3 linked regions of the Homo sapiens genome follow. The protein of the gene in region 3 interacts with the protein of the main gene of each other region in a pairwise test. Each region holds a gene or a part of one and is shown on either strand. Other genes may lie near its edges.

Region 1 (7,406 bases), on a different chromosome or scaffold from region 3:
AACTGAAAGCTTTTCTCCCTAAGATCAGAAACAAGTCAAGGATGTCCAATCTCACCGCATCTAATTAACATTTTGCTAGAAATTCCATCCAGAGCAATTAGTCAAGAAAAAGAATGAAAGGCAAGCAGATTAGAAAAAAGTAAATCTCTGTTCTCAGATATCATGATCTTGTATGCAGAAATTCCTAAAGATACACACACACACACGGAGATTAGCACTAATGAACACACTCAGCAAGGCTGCAGGATACAAGATCTATATGCAAAAATTAATTCTATGTACATATACCAGCAATGAACTATCCAAAAACGAAATTAAGAAAGCAATTCCACCAAGAAGAGCTTTCAATGGAGGAAAATTAGTCTTTTTAACAAGTAGTGTTGGAACAATTAGACATCAAAATGCAACAGAATGAAGTTGGCTCTTAACTCACCCCATATACAAGAATTAACTCAAAATGGATCACAGATGTAAATTTAAGAGTTAAAACTAGAAAACTCTCAGAAGGAAACAAGGGTATGATCTTCATGATCTTCTAGATTTGACACCAAAGCATGAACAACAACAAAAAACAGATAAATTGTATTTTATCAAATTCTGAAACTTCGGGACTTCAAAGGACACTATAAAGAAAGTTTAGGCCGGGTGAGGTGGCCCACGCCTGTAATCGCAGCACTGTGTGAGGCCGAGGTGGGTGTATCACTTGAGGTCAGGAGTTCCAAGACCAGCCTGACCTCTGCCTCCTGGGATTACAGGCATGAGCCATGGCGCCCCTCTTCATTTCATTACTTTTTTTTTTTTCTGAGATGAAGTCTCACTCTGGCACCCAGGCTGGAGTGCAGTGGGGCGATCTCAACTCACTGCAGCCTCCATCTCCCAGGTTCAAGCAATTCTCCTGCCTCAGCCTCCTGCATAGCTGGGACTACAGGCACGCAACACCATGCCCAGCTAATCTTTGTATTTTTAGTAGAGATGGGGTTTCACCATGTTGGCCAGGCTGGTCTCGAACTCCTGGCCTCAAGTGAGCCACCCACCTCAACCTCCCAAAGTGCTGGGATTACATGAATGAGCCACCAAGCCCAGCTGACCCTCTTCATTTCTATGGTACACTCTCCCTCCACTTATCCTGCCCCTTTTAAAGTTCAGCCCTCCCTGCTCTGCTCCCCTACCCTCATCTCTAAGGTGAACCCTCTTTCCACTGCTCCATCAATTTCTGAGGTCCACCCTCCTTGTTCCTGCTTCTCCTTGCTCCACTCCTGCGCTTCCACATTGAAGCTCAGCTCCCACTGCTCTGCCTCTCCCCCTCTCATTTCTAAAGTGGCCCTTGGCCAGGCGCAGTGGCTCAGGCCCACAATCCCATCATTTTGGGAGGCCGAGCCGGGAGGATTGCTTGAGGCCAGGAGTTCGAGACCAGCCTGGGCAACATAAGGAGACCCAATCTCTACAAAAATTTAAAAATTAGGTGGGCATGGTAGTGAGCACCTGTGGTTCCAGCTACTCGAGAGGCTGAGGTGGTAGGATCACTTGATTGAGCCTGAGAGCTTGAGGCCACAGTGAGCCGTGATCGTGCCACTACACTCCAACCCAGACAACAGTCCCTGACCTTATCTCAAAAATAACTAACTAGGCCGGGGGCGGTGGCTTATGCCTGTAATCCCAGGACTTTGGGAGGCCGAGAAGGGCGGATCACTTGAGACCAGGAGACCAGTCTGGGCAACATGGTGAAACCTCGCTCTACTAAAAAACAAAACAAAACAAAACAAAAAAACAAAAACCTAGACAGGTGTGGTGGCGCGTGCCTGTAGTCCCAGCTACTCTGTCGACTGAGGTGGGAGGATCGCTTGACCCCAGGGGGCGGAGGCTGCACTGAGCCAAGATGATGCCACTGCACACCTGCCTGAGAAACAGAGCAAGCACGTTTCACACACACACACACACCCCTAACTAAAGTAGCCCTTTTCTGTTTTGTCCTCCTTCCCCCATTTCTACAGTTTCCTTCTTCCGTGCTCTGATGCCCTTCTCCATTTCTAAAGTCAGCTTCCATCCTCTCTACTCAGCTCTGCTCACTCCCTATCTGGCTTGGAAAGTCTATTCCCTCCCCTCCTCCCCCATTTCTAAGATGGATAATAGCAGAGGAACTGGTCCAAGTAAAATCCACTTTTTCTGGGTTTGGTGCGAATGGAGGAGGTTAGGGGCCTTGATAAAGGAGTTCTTTTTTCTAAGGTTCCACTCTCCGTGTAGAGGTCTCAGGTTAGAGACTAGAGAGCGCCAGCAAAGAAAGGCTATCCAGAGCGAATAACCACCAGCCAACAAGCAAATAAATGGACCAACCACCCCTTCGAATAACCACCAGCCAACAAAGCAGATACACCAACCCACCAACAACTCCTAGCACTACCACGCCGGGATCCCTAGTAAAATAGCCTAAGGCTTGCTCCTCCGGGCCCTGGAATCTAGTGATTTATGACATCCGCTTGGACTGAGAAGAGCACTTGGCTCCATGTGTTTGAAGGAGGCCAGTAGTTAGGTATCAATTCTTAGGAGAGTAAAATACACGTTAATAGCGGTCTATTTTCTCCGCCTGCCCCTTTCAGCAATCCTTAATCCCCACGCGCTTCTGGTCAGCCTCCCTCAGTTCCCCACCTGAAAGGAGAGGGCTGGAGGTGAGGAGAAAAAGAGGAGAGGAGGGATAGGGGCCAAGTGGTCCCAGGGTTCGTCAGGGTGGGGCAGGTGCGGAGATGCCCTGAAGGGGAAGCCTCTCCTCGAACTGGTGTGTTCCTCCCGACGCCACTTCTAGTAAGCGCTATGCCGAGGTCTTGCGCTCAAGACCAGTGAGCCCAAACTAGTGGAGACTGGGATCCGAGATCTACATACCTAGAGACATATCTAGGAAGTTAACCTTTTTCCGACTGGGATGATTTGGCGGCACTTTTTCAGAAAGCGTTAGCTTCCGAAACGAAGCCATCTTCCCTGCATCATGGCGCCACACACTCCGAGGTAGGGCGCGTGTACCACCCCCTCACCGCGCAGGAGGAGCAGAGTGGTGGACTAACCTGATCCTCCAATCATAGCCTCTCCCTTCGGTGTTGCTAAGCCCCAAGGGGTGGAGCTTGGCGTTACCCCTCACCAAGTCTCCTATCAGGAGCTTGGCTCGCTAGAAGAAAAAAAAAGGAAAGACCCGCCCATCTCCCACCCGATACCCCTTTCTAAAAATATTCTCTCCACCTAGAGCACTATGTAGTTGGCTACAAGTTTCTAGTGTATGTGGTGTTCCGGCCCTTGCCTTTCACAGTTCCTAGGACCCATTTCTCCTCTTTGCTGTTGACATTCATGGCGAATAAAACCTTATAATCTTGACTTAATGGGCTGATGCTCTGCTTCTCTCAAATTCCAAGAGGGAGCACAAATTTAACATCTAGGGAGGATTCACAGGTTTGCAATGCCACACGCTTTCTTTTCTGTCTTTCTTTTCGTTTTTGTTTTTTGTTTTTTGTTTTTTTGAGACACAGTATCTCTTTGTCACCCAGGCTGGCGTGAAGTGGCGCCAACTCCGTTCACTGCAACCTCCGCCTCTGGGGTTCAAGCGATTCTCCCACGTCAGCCTCCCAAGTAGCTGAGATTACAGGAGCGCGCCACCACGCCTGGCTAATTTTTGTGTTTTTAGTAGAGATAGGGTTTCACCATGTTGGCCAGGCTGGTCTCCTGGGCTCAAGTGATCTACCCGTCTGTGCTACCCTCATACCACAGCGCCCACACTTTCCCTCCCTCCCTCTGTCCCTCCCTTCCTTCTTTCCTTCCTTCCTTCCTCCCTCCCTCCCTTCCTCCCTCCCACCCTCTCTTTCTTCTTCCTAACTTCTTTCTTTCCATCTGCCTTGGCATCCCTCCCTCACCGCACCTGGTTATTTCTTTTCCTTCCTTCCTTTCTTCCTTTCTTTCTTTTCTTTCTCTTTCTTTTCTTTCTTTCTTTCTTTTTCTCTTTCTTTCTTTTCCCTTTCTTTCTTTTTTTCTTTCTTTCTCTCTCTCTTTCTTCCTTCCTTCCTCTCTTTCTTTTCCTTCCTTCCTTCCTCCCTCCCTCCCTCCCTTCCTTCCTTCTTCCTAACTTCTCTCTTTCCACCCGCCTCGGCCTTCCTCCCTCACCACACCCGGCTATTCCCTTCCCTTCCCTCCCCTCCCCTCCCCTCCCCTTCCCTTCCCTTCTCTCCCTTGCTTCCTTGCTTCCTTCCTTCCTTTTTTCCTTCCTTCCTTCCTTTCTTTTTCTTTCTTTTCTTTCTTTTCTTTTTTCTTTCTTTCCTCGATCTGTTGCCAAGGTTGGCATGCCTTAACCTCCCAGGCTCCTCTTGGGCTGTAGAGATGGGGATCTCACCATGTTGGCCAAGCTGATCTCAAACTCCTGGCCTCAAGCAATCCTCCCACCTTGGCCTCCCAAAGTGCTGGGATTACAGGCATGAGCCACCATACCCGGCCTGCCACATGCTGTTCAATGACCTTGAAGATGTGTCCATGACATTTCTTAAGAAAAATGTAATTGTTCTTGTTATCACCTAATACTGCTCAATCAAATGCTACTTTAAAATATTAGAGAAATCTTGTCACTGGCTCTTCAGTAGAAATAAAAATCAAATTAATACATTTTCAAAGGTAAAAATATGTTCAAGCTATTACAGAATCCACAACATAAATAAATGCCGGAAGAGATTTTGAAAAATGTAAATTATTTAACTATTTATTGTATTTAAGTAAATGCTTCGCACCTGGGACCTAAAGATTAATAAATAAATCTGTTTCTCCATGCATATACAATTGCCTGAAGACAATAAATGCATGCAAAATATTAATTTAGGTGCTGTAATTTAGTCTGTCAACAAATACTGAGCTCCTGCTGTGTTAGGTTCTGAGGATACAGGTATGTACAAAATGTATTTGGGATTCAAAGGAGAAAATTCACCCAAGGAATCAAGAAAAAATTATTTAAATCCTGAGAAATTAGGGAATAATTGTAGGGGTGGGAATGGTATTTCTTGGCAGAGGAAGCAGCACCACTAACACACTGTGGAAAGTTCTATTCATTCCATGTGGTGGGTACTGAGAGATGAGTCTAAAGAGATCAACAGATATTAGATCATGGAGTGACTTTTATAATATATTATGCTAATGGTTTGGGCCTTTTTTTCTGTCAGATTTATTTTTCTGTCAGGTATGAAGTGAGAATGAAAGAGGATCAAAGATAGAACCCCAAGAAAATTAAAAAGAACATTGAGTAGAAAATATCAGAGAGATATGGGTAGAACCAGGAAAGAGGTATTCATTTATTAAGGGAGAACTCCAGGAGGAACCGACGGGTCCATCTTGTCAAGGGTTGATAGAAAGTCAAATAAGCTAAGAACTGATTAATTCATTAAATTTAGTAATTATGAGATCCGGTTTTTACCTTCAGCAGAGTTCTAGCAGGCTATAAACTGATAAACAACTAATTTTTATTTAACAAACACATAAAGCATTTACTATCTGCCCGGCATTGTTCTGAGAGCTTTACAAATATTCAATAATTTAATCTTCACAATAACCCCATGAGAAATAATATTATCTCCTTTTACCAGCAAGGAAAAGAAGGCACAAAGACATTTAAAAAATTGCCCAAGGACACAGAGCTGGTAAATGTTGCAATTACTTCAAACCCATGCAGTTCAGCTCTAAAAATCACGCTTGTAACTACTACCTTTACACAAGGTAGTATAGGGTGGTTTTTTTTTAATTATACTTTAAGTTTTAGGGTACATGTGCACAACGTGCAACTTTGTTACATATGTATACATGTGCCATGTTGGTGTGCTACACCCATTAACTCGTCATTTACATTAGGTATATCTCCTAATGCTATCCCTCCCCCCTCCCCCCACCCCACAACAGGCCCCATAGTGTGATGTGCCCCTTCCTGTGTCCATGTGTTTTCATTGTTCAATTCCCACCTATGAGTGAGAACATGCAGTGTTTGGTTTTCTGTCCTTGCAATAGTTTGCTGAGAATGATGGTTTCCAGCTTCATCCATGTCCCTACAAAGGACATGAGGGTAGTTTTTTTTTAATGGAAGAGATTAAATTAAACATGCTTATAGGTCATGAGAAAGGAGCTAGCAAAGAGAGACACATTAGAAATAAAGAAAAGGGAGGCCGGCCCAGTGGCTAACACCTGTAATCCCAGCACTTTGGGAGGCCAAGACAGGCAGATCACTTGAGGTCAGGAATTCCAGACCAGCCTGGCCAACATGGTGAAACCCCAACTGTACCAAAAATACACAAATTAGCCGTGCATGGTGGTGTGCGCCTGTAATCCCAGCTGCTTGGGAAGCTGAGGCAGGAGAATTGCTTGAACACAGGAGGCAGAGATTGCAGTGAGCTGAGATTGCACCACCACACTCCAGCCTGGGCGACAGAGCCAGACTCTGTTTCAAATAAATAAATTAAATTAATAAATAAAAATAAACAAAAGGAAGTAAGGAAATAATCAATGAATTTCCTTTCTCCCTAGGTTTCAGAATTGAGCCATAGTAGAGATGGGACCAGGAGATAACTTTGAAAGACATCGTGCTTTGCTTGAAATTGCTTGTTATTTGATTAATTTGATCTTGCATAACTTTCACTTCTCTTAGTTGAACTTCTCTGCCTTCATTCAAATAGGTTCTCTCAAATTCGAAGAATGAGCACAAATCTAGCATCCAGGGACAGACTTGCAAAACCACGCAGAAACCAAAGTGAGCCTTTTAAAACATCAGTCTTGGCGTGGTGCTCATGCCTGTAATCTCAGCACTTTGAGAGGTTGAGGCGGGAGGATCCCTTGAGCCCTGGAGTTCGAGGTCAGCCAACAAAGTGACAACAATGTGAGACCCCGTCTCTACAAAAAATTAAAAAATTAGCCAGGCGTAGTGGTGCATACCTGTGGTCCCAGCTACTCAGGAGGCTGAGATGGGGGGATCGCTTGAGCCAGGGAGGCAGAGGCTGCAGTGAGCCATTATCTCACCACTGCAACTCCAATCTGAGAGACAGAGCAAGATCCTGTCTCAAACAAAACAAAACAAAACAGCAGGGACAGTGTGGAATTCTGGCAACAGCAGTGGCAACAGCAAAAGCCAGTTTCTTGAGGCAGCAATGGCAGTGTTGCAAATCACAGTATCTAGTGTGTGGCAGTGGTGGCCTCTTCAGATTCGTTTTGATGTGTGATTTTAGCTAATACTATAAATTTCTCACCTCTCTTGGTTCCTGCACTTTTTCCTGAGCTTGATTCTTTAGACGTCATGGCTATTCCTTGAGCTATGTAACATAACAGGCTTTCAATAAATTTCTTCTATGCTTAAAGCAGCTAGGATTTGTCACATTCAACTAAGAACTCTTTCTATTGGCATCAAGAGAAAT
Region 2 (7,022 bases), on a different chromosome or scaffold from region 3:
AAACATCCAGTTACCATATGACTCAGCAACTATACTCCTAAATATCCAAGAGAACTGAAAACATGTCTACACAAAAACTTACATATGAATGTCTATATAGCAGCACTGTTCATGATAGCAAAAAGTGGAAAATATCCAAATGTCCATCAAACGATGAATAAACAAAATGTGATTAATCCATGCAACAGATTATTTGACCATAAAAAGGGATGAAGTATTGACACAAACTATAACACAGATGAACCCTGAAAACATTATGTGAATGAAAGAAGCCAAGACACACAAAAGGATACATATTGTATGATTCCCTGTATATGAATATTGAGAATAGGCAAATCCAAAGAGGCAGGACGCAGATTAGCAGCTGCTAGGGACCGGGGAGAGAGGACAATGGAAGGGGAGTGCTAATGAATACAGAGTTTCTTTTCGAGGTAATGAAAATGTCCTAAAGTTGACTGTGGTGACAGGTGCACAACTCCAGTGAACTGTGCACTTATAAAAAGCTGTCAATCCTACAATGGTGCCTCCAATATTGATTTTATTTTGTTGGTCAGAGCAAACCAAGGGTCTAGGAACCAGTGGTGTAGACATCTCGTATACAACTTTACTCAGCTACCCTAACTACCCTAATAGACCCTGGGATACAATGGGAATTTCACATTTTCCAGGTTAAGAAAGGGCCAGGCGCGGTGGCTCACGCCTGTAATCCCAGCACTTTGGGAGGCTGAGGCAGGTGGATCACCTGAGGTCAGGAGTTTAAGACCAGCCTGACCAACAAAGTGAAACCGCGTCTCTACTAAAAATACAAAAAAAATTAGCCGGGTGTGGTGGCAGGTGCCTATAGTCCCAGCTACTTGGGAGGCGGACACAGGAGAACTGCTTGAACCCAGGAGGCAGAGGTTGCAGTGAGCCAAGATTGCGCCACTGCACTCCAGCCTCAGCAATGGAGTGAGACTCCATCTCAAAAAAAAAAAAAAAAAAAAAAAAAAAAGAAAGGAAAGGAAGTAATTCTAAACCTCTAAACTTTTATCTGGATGCAAAAAATAACTACCTAAAACTTAGACTAGCATATCTACTGATTCAGAAAATACAGATTAAATTTAATTATGAAAACAGCTCTAGAAAAAAAAACTTCTTAAAATCTCTGGTTTGGACTCACCTCTTTTTTCTGAAGCACCAACCTCTACAGCATTGTGCATCGAAAAACAGTCTAGCAAAGTCCAGCTTTATCACACCCTTCTATACTATCAGCTCATGAGACCTATTCATATGGGCACATACGCTGTACTGATCAGGATCACATGGGATCAACAACATTCCTACTACAATTTGGTCACCAAAACCTGACTTCCATACAGACCTGATAATAGGCTTTCTTGATCTCTTTCTGGCTGGCATTTCGAGGCACTCCTAATATCTGATAATAATCTTCTTTGGCCAAAGGGGCACTCGTGTGGAAGGAGGCAGTACAAATGAAAGGGTTATGTTTTGTTCCTAAAAAGGAAAAAACAAAGAAAATCACTCTGGGAATGTTCTCAACAAAAGAAAACTGTGAGTACATGACCCACCAGGCTATATCTGTGAAGGAACAAACAAACTGATAAGGTTTGGCTGTGTCCCCACCCAGATCTCAACTAGAATTTTAGTTCCCATAATCCCCACGTGTCATGGGAGGGACCTGATGGGAGGTAACTGAATCACAGGAGCGGTTACCTCCATGCTGGTCTCGCGATAGTAAGTTCTCATGAGATCTGATAGTTTTATGAGGGGCTCACCCTTTTGCTCATTCTTCCTGCTGCCATGTTAAGAAGGATGTGTTTGCTTCCCCTTCCGCCACGATCGCTGAGGCCTCCCCAGCCGTGCTGAACTGTGAGTTAAATAAACCTCTTTCCTTTAAAATTTACCCAGTCTTAGGTATGTCTTTATTAGCTGCATGAGAACAGACTAATACACAGGCTACAGCTTTAGGGCTGTTCCCTAATGCACTTCAATAATGGCTAAGGAAGCCACAGTATTCAATTAATATTAAACTATGTCAGAGTATTGGATGAGGCTGATTCTCCTCGCTTATACTACTGGAGTGGTCTCAGTAAACCACTAAAGGAATAATACTCCTGACTGGGAGATGATTAAAAAGGGATTCAGCTCCCCCCTCTTATGCCACATGAGCACTTACCATTTGCTAGGTATTTTCATATTTTCATATTTTTCTGTCACATTTAATGCTTAACAACTCCCCACATTCTTTTCCCTCTATCTTGCAGCCTTGGGTATCTACTTAAGGAGCAGTTCTCAAGACTGCGCTCCCTGGACCAACAGCATCATTAGACTGATGAAAACACAGATGTTCAAGCCCTACTCCAGACATTCACCAGAAACTCAGGAGGTCTCCACCCACTAGATGCCAGTAGAGAACTCCCCGTCTCCAGGCATTGCCAAATGTCCCCTGGGAAGTAAAAGTGTCCCCTGCTGAGAACCAATGACAAATCAATCTAAGAAGGTCGGGGAAGAACTTCTAGGCATCAGCTGTTAAGCTGCAGAAACTGGCTAAGCTGCCCAGGAAAGCATTTGCCACTTTCAGTGGAAAACAAATGGCGGTTACTAACTAGGATGACTTTGTACTTTGGATCTGGATTCACAGCACCTTTTTTAATAGCAAGACACCAACTGCTTAAGAAACAAGGATGTTTTAGTTCATCCACTTAACAGATAGGAAGAGCAGGTTTTTTGTTTTTTGAGATGGAGTCTCGCTCTGTCGCCCAGGCTGGAGTGCAGTGGCGCCATCCTGGCTCACTGCAAGCTCCACTTCCCGGGTTCACGCCATTCTCCTGCCTCAGCCTCCCAAGTAGCTGGGACTACGGGCGCCTGCCACCACACTCGGCTAATTTTTTCATATTTTTAGTAGAGACGGGGTTTCGCCGTGTTAGCCAGGATGGTCTCGATCTCCTGACCTCATGATCCGCCTGCCTCGACCTCCCAAAGTGCTGGGATTACCGGCGTGAGCCACCGTGCCCGGCAGGCTTTTTGTTTCTTTGTTTTTTGAGACGGAGTTTCGCTCTTCTTGCCCAGACTGGCGTGCAGTGGTGCGATTTTGGCTCACTGCAACCTCCGCCTGCTGGGTTCAAGCGACTCTCCTGCCTCAGCCTCCCAAGTAACTGGGACTACAGGCGTGTGCCACCACGCCCAGACTGGAGGTGTTTTAATAGATGAAATCTGTTTAAAAAGTGAATAAGCCGGGCCGGGTATGGTGGCTCCTGCCTGTAATCCCAGCACTTTGGGAGGCCAAGGCGGGCGGATCACCTGAGGTCAGGAGTTAGAGACCAGCCTGACCAACATGGAGAAACCCCATCTCTACTAAAAATACAAAATTAGCCGGATGTGGTGGTACATGCCTGTAATCCCAGCTAGTAAGGAGGCTGAAGCAAGAGAATCGCTTGAACCTGGGGGGCAGAGGTTGCAGTGAGCCAAGATCGCGCCATTGCACTCCAGCCTGGGCAACAGGAGTGAAACTCCATCACAGAAAAAAAAAAGAAAAAAAAAAAGAAAGAAAAATAAGCCTGGGCACAGTGGCTCTCGCCTGTAATCCCAGCACTTTGGGAACCTGAGGCGTGAGGATCGCTTGAGCCCAGGAGTTCGAAACCAGCCTGGGCAACACAGAGACCCTGTCTCTATTAAAAATAAATAAATAAATGGATCAAAGACTTGAACTTATATGACATACTAGATGTTTGTAAATAAACTTATGACATGGAAAAAAAAGAGAGAGAGACAGAAATAGGCTAAAGAGGACTTTGAATCCATACAGATTTATACCTATAACTAAACTAGATGGCAGTGGTGGTAGTGGTGGTTAGAGATGATAACGATTAATGGGGCCTAGGAATAGGAAGGGCCTTAGAGCTATGCTAAGGAGTCTGGATTTTATCCTAAGAGCAATAGGGAGCCACTGCAAATGTTAAACAAAGAACCCATTAGGTTTGCATGAGAAACAACTCTAGGCCAGGCAAGGTGGCTCACGCCTATTGTAATCCCAGCACTTTGGGAGGCCGAGGCGGGTGGATCACTTGAGGTCAGGAGTTCGAGACCAAGCTGGCCAACATGGTGAAATCTTGTCTCTACTAAAAATACAAAAATTAGCCGGTCATGGTGGTGCACGCCTGTAATCCCAGCTACTTGGGAGGCTGAGGCATGAGAATTGTTTGAACCTGGGAGGCTGAGGTTGCAGTGAGCCAAGATCGCGCCATTGCACTCCAGCCTGGGCGACAGAGCAAGACTCCACCTGAAAAAAAAAAAAGAGAAACAACTCTAGGAAGCCTGGGAGACTACTCGAAGTTAATCAGCACAAAACACAACCAGAGGTTGGTTGAGCACATCCAAGTAGGAGGCCAGGTAAAGGATGATCAGACAGGAGAATGGATAGGAATGGTCAGGATACTTAAAATTAGAAATAGGAAATAAATCCGTGTGTTTGGCACACCCAATATCCTCGGGATACAAAAAGCACACTGGAAGTAGTAGGGGTCAGGAGACCACTTTGTGTTTCTTCAGTCAGACTTGAGAAAACACTAGACCTGACTTATTATTGAACTTGTACTCAACCCTCTTTTTATTTCGGAGTAAGGGGTTGCCCGGCCCAGTCCAGCCTCTCTCTCACCACTCATTCCAATGCCACAAGGCGGAGGCTGGTAGTGACCTGTGGCAGCTGTGGCTTCAACATTACGGGCAGAGAACACGGACAGGAGTTAGTACAGAGATAGTAACGCACAAAACTGCATGTGGATAAAGACAAATCACGTTTAATTACAAGACTGATGGCTTTGTTTTTTCTTTTTTTGAGACAGAGTCTCACTCTGTCACCCAGGCTGGAGTGCAGTGGTGTGATCTCGGTTCACTGCAACCTCCATCTCCCAGGTTCGAGCGATTCTTCTGCTTTAGCCTCTCAAGTAGCCAGGACTATAGGCGCACACCACCACACCTGGCTAATTTTTGTATTTTTAGTAGGTAAGAAGTTTCACCATGTTGGCCAGGCTGGTCTCGAACTCCTGACCTCAAGTGATCCGCCGGCCTCATCCTACCAAAGTGCTGGGGTTACAGGCATGAGCCACCATCCCCAGTCTGATGACTTTTGACATTATCCATAGGGCATCAATGATTAACAATAATTAGATTTCATTTAATAGACTATTTATTTTATCACATATGACCAGTAAATGTCCTGTCCTTTTTAGAACAACCCAGAATAAAATAAGCCTCCAAGTCGTTCTAAGAATGGCCAACCCACTGTCCAACAACTGCTTTCTTTTTTTTTTTTTTTGACAGGGAGTTTGGCTCTTGTTGCCCAGGCTGGAGGGCAGTGGCGCGATCTCGGCTCACTGCAACCTCTGCCTCCTGGGTTCAAGCGATTCTCCTGTCTCAGCCTCCCGAGTAGCTGGGATTACAGGAACCCGCCACCACGCCTGACCAACTTTTTCTATTTTTAGTAGAGACAAGCTTTGGCCATCTTGGCCAGGCTGGTCTCAAACTCCTGACCTCAGGCGATCAACCCACCTCCCAAAGTAATGGGATTGCAGGCATGAGCCACCATACCTGGCCACCAACAACTGCTTTCTTTCTGCTTGGAAGAAAAGTCACATCTAAAATGTTGTTATGTCATCTTACTACTAGATTTGAGACAAGATCACAGACTAGTGTTTGGACGCTGAGTTAATGACCTTTTCAAAATTTTTTTTTTTAAGAGACAGGGGTCTCATTATGTTGCCTAGGCCAAATTCAAATTCCTGGACTCCAGCAATCCTCCCACCTCAACCTCCTGAGTAGCTAGGACTATAGAGGCTCGCCACCACATGGCTTCTCAGTTGATGACTTTATTAATTTTTTGGTAGAGAAAGAGTCATACTCTGTTGCCCAGGCTGGAGTGCAGTGGCATCATCATGGCTCACTGCAGCCTCAACCTTCTGGGCTCAAGTGAAACTCCCACCTCAGCCTCCCAAGCAGCTGGGAGTACAGGCAGTTGCCACCATAGTTGGCTAATTTTTTTTTTTTTGAGACACAGTTTCGCTCTTGTTGATCAGGCTGGAGTGCAATGGCGCTAACTCGGCTCACGGCAACCTCCGACTTTCACGTTCAAGCAATTCTCCTGCCCCAGCCTCCCGAGTACCCGGGTTTACAGGCATGCGCCACCAGGCCTGGCTAATTTTGTATTTTTTGTAGAGACGGGGTTTCTCCATGTTGATCAGGCTGGTCTCAAACTCCTGACTTCAGGTGATCCGCCCGCATAGGCCTCCCAAAGTGCTGGGATTACAGGCGTGAGCCACCATGTCCGGCCACAGTCAGCTAATTTTTAAAAATCTTTTTGTAGGCCGGGCGCGGTGACTCACACCTGTAATCCCAGCACTTTAGGAGGCTGAGGTGGACAGATCATGGGTAAAGAGATCGAGACCATCCTGGCCAATATGGTGAAATCCAGTATCTGCTAAAAATACAAAAATTAACTGGGAGTGGTGGCACGTGCCTGTAGTCCCAGCTACTCAGGAGACTGAGGCAAGAGGATCACTTGAACCCAGGAAGCGGAGGATGCGGTGAGCCGAGATCACGGTGAGTCAAGATCATGGTGAGCCGAGATCGCACCACTGCACTCCAGCCTGGCTACAGAGCAAGACTCCGTCTCAAACAAACAAACAAAAAAAATCTTGGCCGGGCGCGGTGGCTCACACCTGTAATCCCAGCACTTTGGGAGGCGGAGGCGGGTGGATCACGAGGTCAGGAGATCGAGACGTCCTGGCTAACACAGTGAAACTCCATCTCTACTAAAAATACAAAAAATTAGCTGGGCGCGGTTGCAGGTGCCTGTAGTCCCAGCTACTCGGGAGGCTGAGGCAGGAGAATGGCCTGAACCCGGGAGGCGGAGTTTGCAGTGAGCCGAGATCGTGCCACTGCACTCCAGCCTGGGCGACAGAGTGAGACTCCGTCTCAAAAAAAAAAAAAAAAAAAAAAAATCTTTTTGTAGAGATGGGATCTGCCTA
Region 3 (7,572 bases):
CAATGACAGAAAAATCCACCAGTTCCTCCTCGTCCCCCACCCAACCACCACCACACCAAGGAGCGGACAGGCCAAGAAACTTGTCTCAAGTGGCATTACCTTGCCAATCCCTCCGGTTTGAAAGGCGCCTCACACACTGCCGGGCCGAATGGGCAGGCGTCTATGCGAAACCCCGTGCACTGGTTATTGCTAATTGCAAAATACTCATGTGTTACAGCATGCTAGGAATTAGCCAACAGCTGCTTTTTGCTTCGGTAATGAGGCCCTATTACACTCTGCTGGACTGAGTTCTCTTCCTTCTTCCTAGCACTGGTTTCCTGTCTGATTTTCTTCCAAAACCGGGAATTGCCTCCGCTCACATCCTGGGCTCAAAGCCCTAGTGACACAGATTATTCAGTTGGGGCACTGATGTCCGGTCTGACTTCCCTCCAGGCCCCAGGGTCTATGCTAAACCAGGCAGTGAGATTGTAATACTCCAATGATCACTGCTAAAGACACATTAGGGAAAAGAACAGAGAAGAAATCAAAAGATCCCTTCCTGATTTCAGGGAGGAGGAGACAGACAGGCGTTTGGGGTTTGTCGAACGGGAGACGGAGGGAGTGGGTACAGACTTCAACCTATTCCCTCATTATGTTTACATTCAACACAAACCACTAGCGGGGCTGGGAAGCAAACATAATCAACAACTTTTCGGATTTTAAACTCATCACCTTGGTGCTCATTACGAAGGGTGCATTGACTGCACCCTCAATGAACAGACTAGGCTGTCTCTACTGTGGGTGCTTATAGGAGCACCATGGGAGGCAGAGGGAAGACAGAAAAGCCATTTTGGGGACTCACCAGGTATAGGGAATCACTTTGGAACAAGGGACCCCCCCATCAGATCCAAAAGAGAGCCACGTTCCAAAATTCTTTCCAGCTGAGTCCACCCCTCCCTGGAAGCCCACCCTAGCCCCTTCTAGAGGCCAAGGCCACCGCCTTATGGAGCATGAGCATCCCTTGCTGCAGCCAACTATGCTAGACTCCACAGATGCTGACCACGGTGGGCTTCATGTTGTATTGGGCCTGCGTTAACCCAGCTCTCTCTCGAGACAGAGCGGGTGGGGGAGCTGCAGCAGAGGGCAGACACGCCATCAGCACCCCCCCGCCAACAGCACCTTCCTGGTATTTATAAACACAGAGATCACACGCACAATCCCTCCAGTGCAAACCAGTCCGGCTGCTTTAGAAACAAGTTGTTTTCTGCTTCCAGAACCACCCAGGAGCCTGCGTGATGTCTCTTCCCCCACCCGACCCCCTCTTCCCTCTGCCGGTCTCCTTGCTCCAGGTACCCCCAGACCCTCAAGGTGCTCCTTCGTTCCTGGGGGGCAGTGCAGCCTCCTGTCCGTGATCCTTACAGAAGACGGGTCGGCGGGGGGGCAGGCAGGCAGGCAGGGGGCACACAGGCGGCATGAGCCAACCAAGGCTGGCTTCTTCCTTCCTGACCTTCGCACCTGATTCCCAGAGCGGCAGCCCTCGCCCTCGCTCCAGATTACTTGAAGGAGTCCAACCATGTTTCTGGGTCCCCAACCCCTTTCAGAAAGGAGTTATGACTGATGGAGAACGGGGAGGAGAGAGAGAGGGCTTTCCTGAAGGAATAGGGTCCCAGGATGTCGAGAGGTGCCAGTGGGTGCAAAGATTTTCTTGTCTGTCCACCACCCAGAGAGAAGACGCGGGGCAGGGGTGGGGGGGGGGGGGCAGACACTGGGGAGGGGGAGTAGTTCTTGGAAGGAGGTAACAGGCTCCTGGTAGGGGGCCTACAATTCCAGGAGTCTATCTGGGTAAAATATAACGTGAGAGGAAAAGGGCATGTTGTCTCTTCAAGCCCACTCTCCAATCCCCTAGTTTAAAAGGGGGTGGGGGGGAAGGGGAGGACGAAAATCCAGAACTTACAACGGTGGCCCGTAGGTATTTTCTCGCCAAGAAAAAGAAAAGAAAGCAAAAGAGGCAGTGGCGGCGAGAAGAGGGCAGGGGTCCGCCCGCGCCGCCAGGTGCACCGGGGCCCGCACCTACCTGCTGGCCGCCGCCGCCGCTGGAGTAGGACTCGGCGTGCGCAGGAGAGCCGCTGCTGCCCCGGGACGAGGTGTCAAAGTTCCCGGGATAATCCTGGTACATGATCCGCGGTGGGGGCCGGAGAGGAAACAGGGTGTTTTTCTTCCCCCGCCCTCGCCGCGGCCGCGCACCGGCTGCTGCGCGCTCGTTCGTCCGCCGGCCGCGCCGCGGGCTCTGGGCTTCGCTCCTGGGTTTCTCCCCCACCGCGGAGGGCGAGGACAGGGAGGCGGCGACACCTCAGGAACAGCGTCCCCCGAGCGTCCCTTACAGCACTTCTTTCCGGCTCTGCGAGCGCCGCGGGACCAGTTGTCCACCCGATCCCTCCCTCTAAAAAGTCGGCGCGTCTCTCGGTCCCTCCCCTGCGCGCGCCCTCCCGCCCCCGCGCGCAGCCGGAGCTCAGCGGGGACCCACGGCCCAATCAAAAATTGGAAATTAAAAAAAAGATTAGGAGCCCAGCGAGCCTGGCCTGCCAGCCCTGGGGACCCCCGATTTCAGACAGGGCCAAAAAGGCGGAAAGAAAAGCTGTCCGCTGGGAGAAACTTCTGTTTCTTCCTTTTAGAAAAGGAGCCGGAGAATAAACTTCCCGTGGCCGACTCGCCGCCCGAGTTTCGGGGCGGCTCGGATACTTGACTAGGAGAAGGCGGCGTGCGCCCGTCCCGCGGCCCCGAGCGCGCCAGGGGGACAGCGGCTCGTGGGGCTCAAGTAGAGCTGGCGCTGAGAGGGACGCGGCCCCGCTCCCCGCTCCGGCGCCCAGACCCGCACCCCTTCCCCGGAGCCCGCTCCCGGACGGGCCCGCCTCGCCCGGCCGCGCCTCTCCCTCTCTCTCTCTCTCTCTCTCCCTCTTTCTGTCCCCGCCGAGCGCCGCTCGTTCGCTCGCTCGCTGGTTCGCTCGGAGCCCTAGCGCTCTGCCCGAGATGAGTCACTACAATGGCACGAGTTCAACTCACACTCTTTATTCTCCAGCCCTGTACCATGTGGATTCACTCACGTCAACCCCAGACTCCACCTTGCAGGGAGGAGCGCACGAGGAGGCGGGGGGAGGAGGCCGCGGAGGAGGAAGAGGCGCGGGAGGGGAGGAGGCGGGCGCAGCTCTCCCCTCCCAGCCCCGGCTCCCGGCCGCGCTGACGCCAACCGCGCACCCCGCGCGAGGAAGCCAGGCGGTGGCACGGGCGGGAGCGGGCGCCACGCACGGTTCGGAGGCGCCGAGGCAGCCCCGGCCCTCCCCAGTCCCCCGCTCACCCCCCGGGCCCAGCGCCCTTGGTCTGTTCCATTGGCGCACGTTGCCAAAGATGGTCATTTGCGTTAGAGGACGCGAGTGCGGGTTTCCTCGCTTTCGGGTGACGTGGAGGGAGAGGGATTCCCTCGCCCGCTCCCGAGTGCGCTGCGGCCTCTCCCCCGCCCTGGGAAGGGGCTCGGGGCGGGGCCCCGAGAGCGGCCGCGCGGGTCTCGCCTCCGGATTTTAGAAAATAATCACAGCCCTGACGGCGAGACGGGCGGTTCGGTGCGGCGCCACCGGGAGGCCGGGAGCCGGGCGCGCAGAGCCGCTCGCAGGGAGGGCGCGGCTGCGCGCGGTCGTAGGCGCCCTCCGCGGCGCCGCCGAGTGCAGCGGGCGCCCCGGGCGCGCAGGGTGCCCGCGCCGCCCTGCGGCCGGGTGTTGGCGGGGCACGGCGCCGGGCGGGGCTGGCCTGCCTATTTTTCCCTCCGTGGCGGTCTGCCTACCGGTTCCCTTTTTGTTTTTTGTTTTTCATGTTTTCGGTCCTACAGTTAATTCGTTAGGAGTAGCCTTGAAGATGAAATTAACCAGTCAAGACATTCCGGCCGCCCTATACGCCGGGCAATTAGGACGCATCTAATAAGAGTAATCGGGCGTTTATAAGCAAACTCCAGACTGTTACGAATTAAAAAAAAAAAAAAAAAGCCAGCGAGAGGGTGTGCCCCAACGTTGTCGTCTTCAGCTGTTTTGGAGCGAAGTTCAGGGCGCGGGTTGCCGGACATTTGGGTCCTCCTCCCTCGCTGGGCGGGGCTGGGAGGGGCGCGGCGCAGGGTACAGAGCACAGACCTTAGAGCAGGAACGCCCGGCTACGCTATTTACGAGCTGTGAGATCTTGGACGAATTCCTTAACCTCTCTGGGCCTCAGTTTCCTCCTATAAAGTGAAGGAGTTTGGAGACATGACCTTAGGCCCTTCTCTGCTCTGGAGCTCCAATCCTTCCGCTGAGATGATGGTGTGTGTGAATGGAGAAGTACTGTAGCGGAAGTCAGGGAACTTAGGTTTTGGTCCAGGGTCTGTGTTAGCCTCAGTTTACCCAATTCTTAAGTAGCGCCAGCCATCTGTACCCCACAGGGTCCTTATGAGGACCCAATGTTAAGAGGTGTTGAGAGTCCATTGCTGACAACTCGCTGTGCACCGTCACACAACTTCTGTCCTCAGTTTCCTTATCTGCAAAGTGGGGGTGTTGGTAGCAGAGAAAAATAGAGCCGGGAACGCGAAGCTTTCCTGGGGCTCTATATAAAGCGCTGGCATTTCCGGGACGGCTGGCGGCATCTGGCCGCCCCAAGGGCCCCAAGATACGGTAATCCCAAACAATACTCGGGGTCATTGTTTACAGCTATAAAACACATTCTGTCCTGAACGCTATCCCCAAGGACGCGCGCGCGTGCGCGACGAGGCGAGGCCAGCCAGACTCCTCGCACCTCCGCTGCTGCCCGCTGGACAGAGTCCCCAACTCCGCAGGCCCAGGAGAGGGGTGTGGGGCAGGCGGACGCGCGCGCCGGCCGTGGGTGCTTTGCTTTTTTCTTCCCCCTCCCCATCCCTGCGTCCTGGCTTGCCTGGGTGTTTACGCGCCTCTCCCAGCAGGACTGAGTAAATGCAGTCCTTTGACGCAAAACGAATCAGTCCTTCCCCAGCGGCAGCAGCAAAACTCAGAAAACTGGGGGTGGGGGTAGGGACGGGAGGGGCACAGAAGAAATCGTGACATTTTCCCACTCGGTTCTCAGCCCCTCCCCGCGCCACGCGGGCCTCAGGCCGCCCTAGCCAAGTCTTGGGGGCTGCAAAGGGAGGCGCGGCCAAAGCGCCCTGCCTGAGCCCTCCCAGTAGCAACCGCGTGTCGGAGCGGCGCGAACAGACGCACTTTTGGTTTTCCTTTGAGCAGTAGAGGCTGCCCCGCCCTCCCCCACCTGGCGGTCGAAAATCCGGGTGCTTCTGGGTCTCTCCCACACAGTCCTTCCAGTAACGCGGGGGGAAAGAGGCGGGGGAAGGGGAGCGGGAGCTTCCTCCGCGGCCTCCGCAGTCCCGGGCGCGCCCAGCCCCGGCCAGGCGCCGCCGGGAGCGCGCGGGCGAGCGCACCCTCGCGCCCTCGCCCGCCCTCGCCCTGCCAGCTCCCCGGTCCTTTCCTTTCTTGTGGGTTCCCGTAAAGCCCAGCAGCCTGGAGACGTCTGCAGAGCATCACGGAATCTGTGCTGATGCAATTCACTAGCCTCCCTTTGGTGCGCCCTGGCCTGCCTCAGAGCGCTTTGATCCCGGCCCTCTCCTACTCCAGAACTCGTGCTGGCTCCCTCTGCCCGCCGGGAGGCTTGCGTTCCGCAGCCCGCTCACCCCCTTTCAGTCCCCCCAGCGCCGGACACACAGCGCTGTGCCCTGGTGCTGCTGCGGGACTGACCTCCCCCGGTTGAGCGAGTGCCTCAGCGAACTGTGCCTGCCATACAGAGAATTCAGTCTCCAAGTGCCCTCTCCTTGGGAAATCATTCCAGAATCATCCAGTTAGAAAGGGTCCTCTGGCTCCCTGGAATGCTAAAAATAGAGGTGACCCTTTATTGAGTGCTAAAATCAGAGCCAGGCACCATGCTGAATACAGGGCTTGTTCTGTGAAATTCTCACAGCAAACGCTGGAGGTGGGTATTATTCCCTGGTTGCAGAAGAAGACAGTGAGATTGAATAACTTGTCCAGGGGAACTGGTTAGTGAGTTAGTGATCTGTTAGGAGTGCAGCTGAGATTCTCCGACACCAGGCTCTTCTTTTTCCCCAGGACATGGCATGACCTGCCTCCTGTTGGAATGTCTTTGTCTCTCTCTTACTGGTCTTGAAAGGCATGGTCTTTATCTGGTGCATGACTTTATCCTACACTTAGAGGTGCGCCTTAATTCTCCACTGAACAAATAGCCTCAGCGGCATCCCTCAGCTTAGAGAAGAGGCCATGTCAAGTGAGGGAAGGGAAGGGGAAGAGGGAAGCTGGGGTGGGAAGAAAAGGGTAGATGAGCTGGGAAGAAAAGGGTAGGTGAGCTGTCTTCTCATTGCCTCTCTGGGTCTCTGAGACCTCTCTTGCCTTACTTTTGCCGGTCTCCTTGTTTGTCCATCCTGGCCAGTGTTTGGCCCCTGAGAGATGAGGAATCCCAGAATAGCTGCCCCCTCAGAGCTGTGCTGGCCCACACATCTCAGCACCGGATACATGAAGCCCTTTCACACACATCGCCTCATTTGTCCTTACACATGACATCTCTGAAAGGGATATAGACAGCAGAGTGACTCTGGATTGCCAGAAAGGAGGCCGAGGTGCAGAGTGTCACAGCAGCCTACTCAAAATTTTCCAGCTGTAAGTGTCAGAGCCTGAGTTCAAAGCCATCTCACCTGACTTTAAACCCAGCGCTTTGCTGTTTGCCATGCTTCCAACCTTGTAAGTTTAGGAGCAAACTCCATCTTTTTTTTTTTTTTTTTTTTTTTTTTTTTTTTTTTTTTTTTGGAGACAGTGTCTTCCTCTGTCTCCCAGGCTGGAGTGCAGTGTCGTGATCTCGGCCCACTGCAACCTCTGCCTCCCAAGTTCAAGTGATTCTCCTGCCTTAGCCTCCCAAGTAGCTGGGATTACAGGCACACGTCACTGCACCCGGCTAATTTTTGTGTTTTTTGTAGAGATGGAGTTTCACCGTGTTGGCCAGGCTGGTCTCAAACTCCTGGCCTCAAGTGATCAGCCCGCCTTGGCCTCCCAAATTGCTGGGTTTACAGGCATGAGCCACTGTGCCCAACTTACATCTCTTAATGATACACTGTCCTCTATATCCATCATGCCTGAATGAACCTGCCATCATTTCTTTATAGTAAGCCATACTTTTTGATGATATTGTAACATTTCTGAAAGCCAGATGTATCTTATAATCGATGACTATTGAATATGCAAGTGTTGCCGTTTTTGTCCAAAGACCTGTGAATCAGTCATGGGTCCATCAGGAAACAGACTTTAACCCAGATGGTTCAAAGGATGATGCTTTAATGGAGAAATTCCTTATAGAGGTATGGGCAGAGTTAAGAGGGAACTTGAGGCACCTAGAGCCTAGTAACAGCAGGAAATGATGACCATCCCTAGGGTTGAAAAGAGGAGGCAATCATGTTATTGGAGCCTAGTGAGCTTGGGACCATGAAAGAGGGGCCATCCAGCAGGTAGAGGGAAGGAGCCACTGCCAGAGATAGCCTGCTGAAAGGGAGGGAGGAGT

Evidence for each region. The genes of interacting proteins can lie anywhere in the genome.
Region 1: the proteins of FOSL2 (region 3) and LUZP4 interact in binary tests that used the Homo sapiens proteins (3 or more experiments, as listed by UniProt).
Region 2: the proteins of FOSL2 (region 3) and DNAJA3 interact in binary tests that used the Homo sapiens proteins (3 or more experiments, as listed by UniProt).

What each region holds. Positions count from the first base shown.
Region 1 is NC_000023.11:115,285,319-115,292,724, reverse strand, and holds the start of LUZP4 (leucine zipper protein 4), read right to left. Parts: upstream 3,011-7,406; 5' UTR 2,966-3,010; coding exon 2,875-2,965; intron 1-2,874. UniProt on the Homo sapiens protein: Export adapter involved in mRNA nuclear export in cancer cells. Binds and enhances the RNA-binding activity of the nuclear RNA export factor NXF1. Can restore mRNA export function in cells compromised by loss of mRNA export adapters.
Region 2 is NC_000016.10:4,428,856-4,435,877, reverse strand, and holds part of DNAJA3 (dnaJ homolog subfamily A member 3, mitochondrial), read right to left. Parts: intron 1,495-7,022; coding exon 1,361-1,494; intron 1-1,360. UniProt on the Homo sapiens protein: Modulates apoptotic signal transduction or effector structures within the mitochondrial matrix. Affect cytochrome C release from the mitochondria and caspase 3 activation, but not caspase 8 activation.
Region 3 is NC_000002.12:28,388,304-28,395,875, reverse strand, and holds the start of FOSL2 (fos-related antigen 2), read right to left. Parts: upstream 3,019-7,572; 5' UTR 2,156-3,018; coding exon 2,054-2,155; intron 1,329-2,053; exon of another isoform or gene 1,204-1,328; intron 151-1,203; exon of another isoform or gene 100-150; intron 1-99.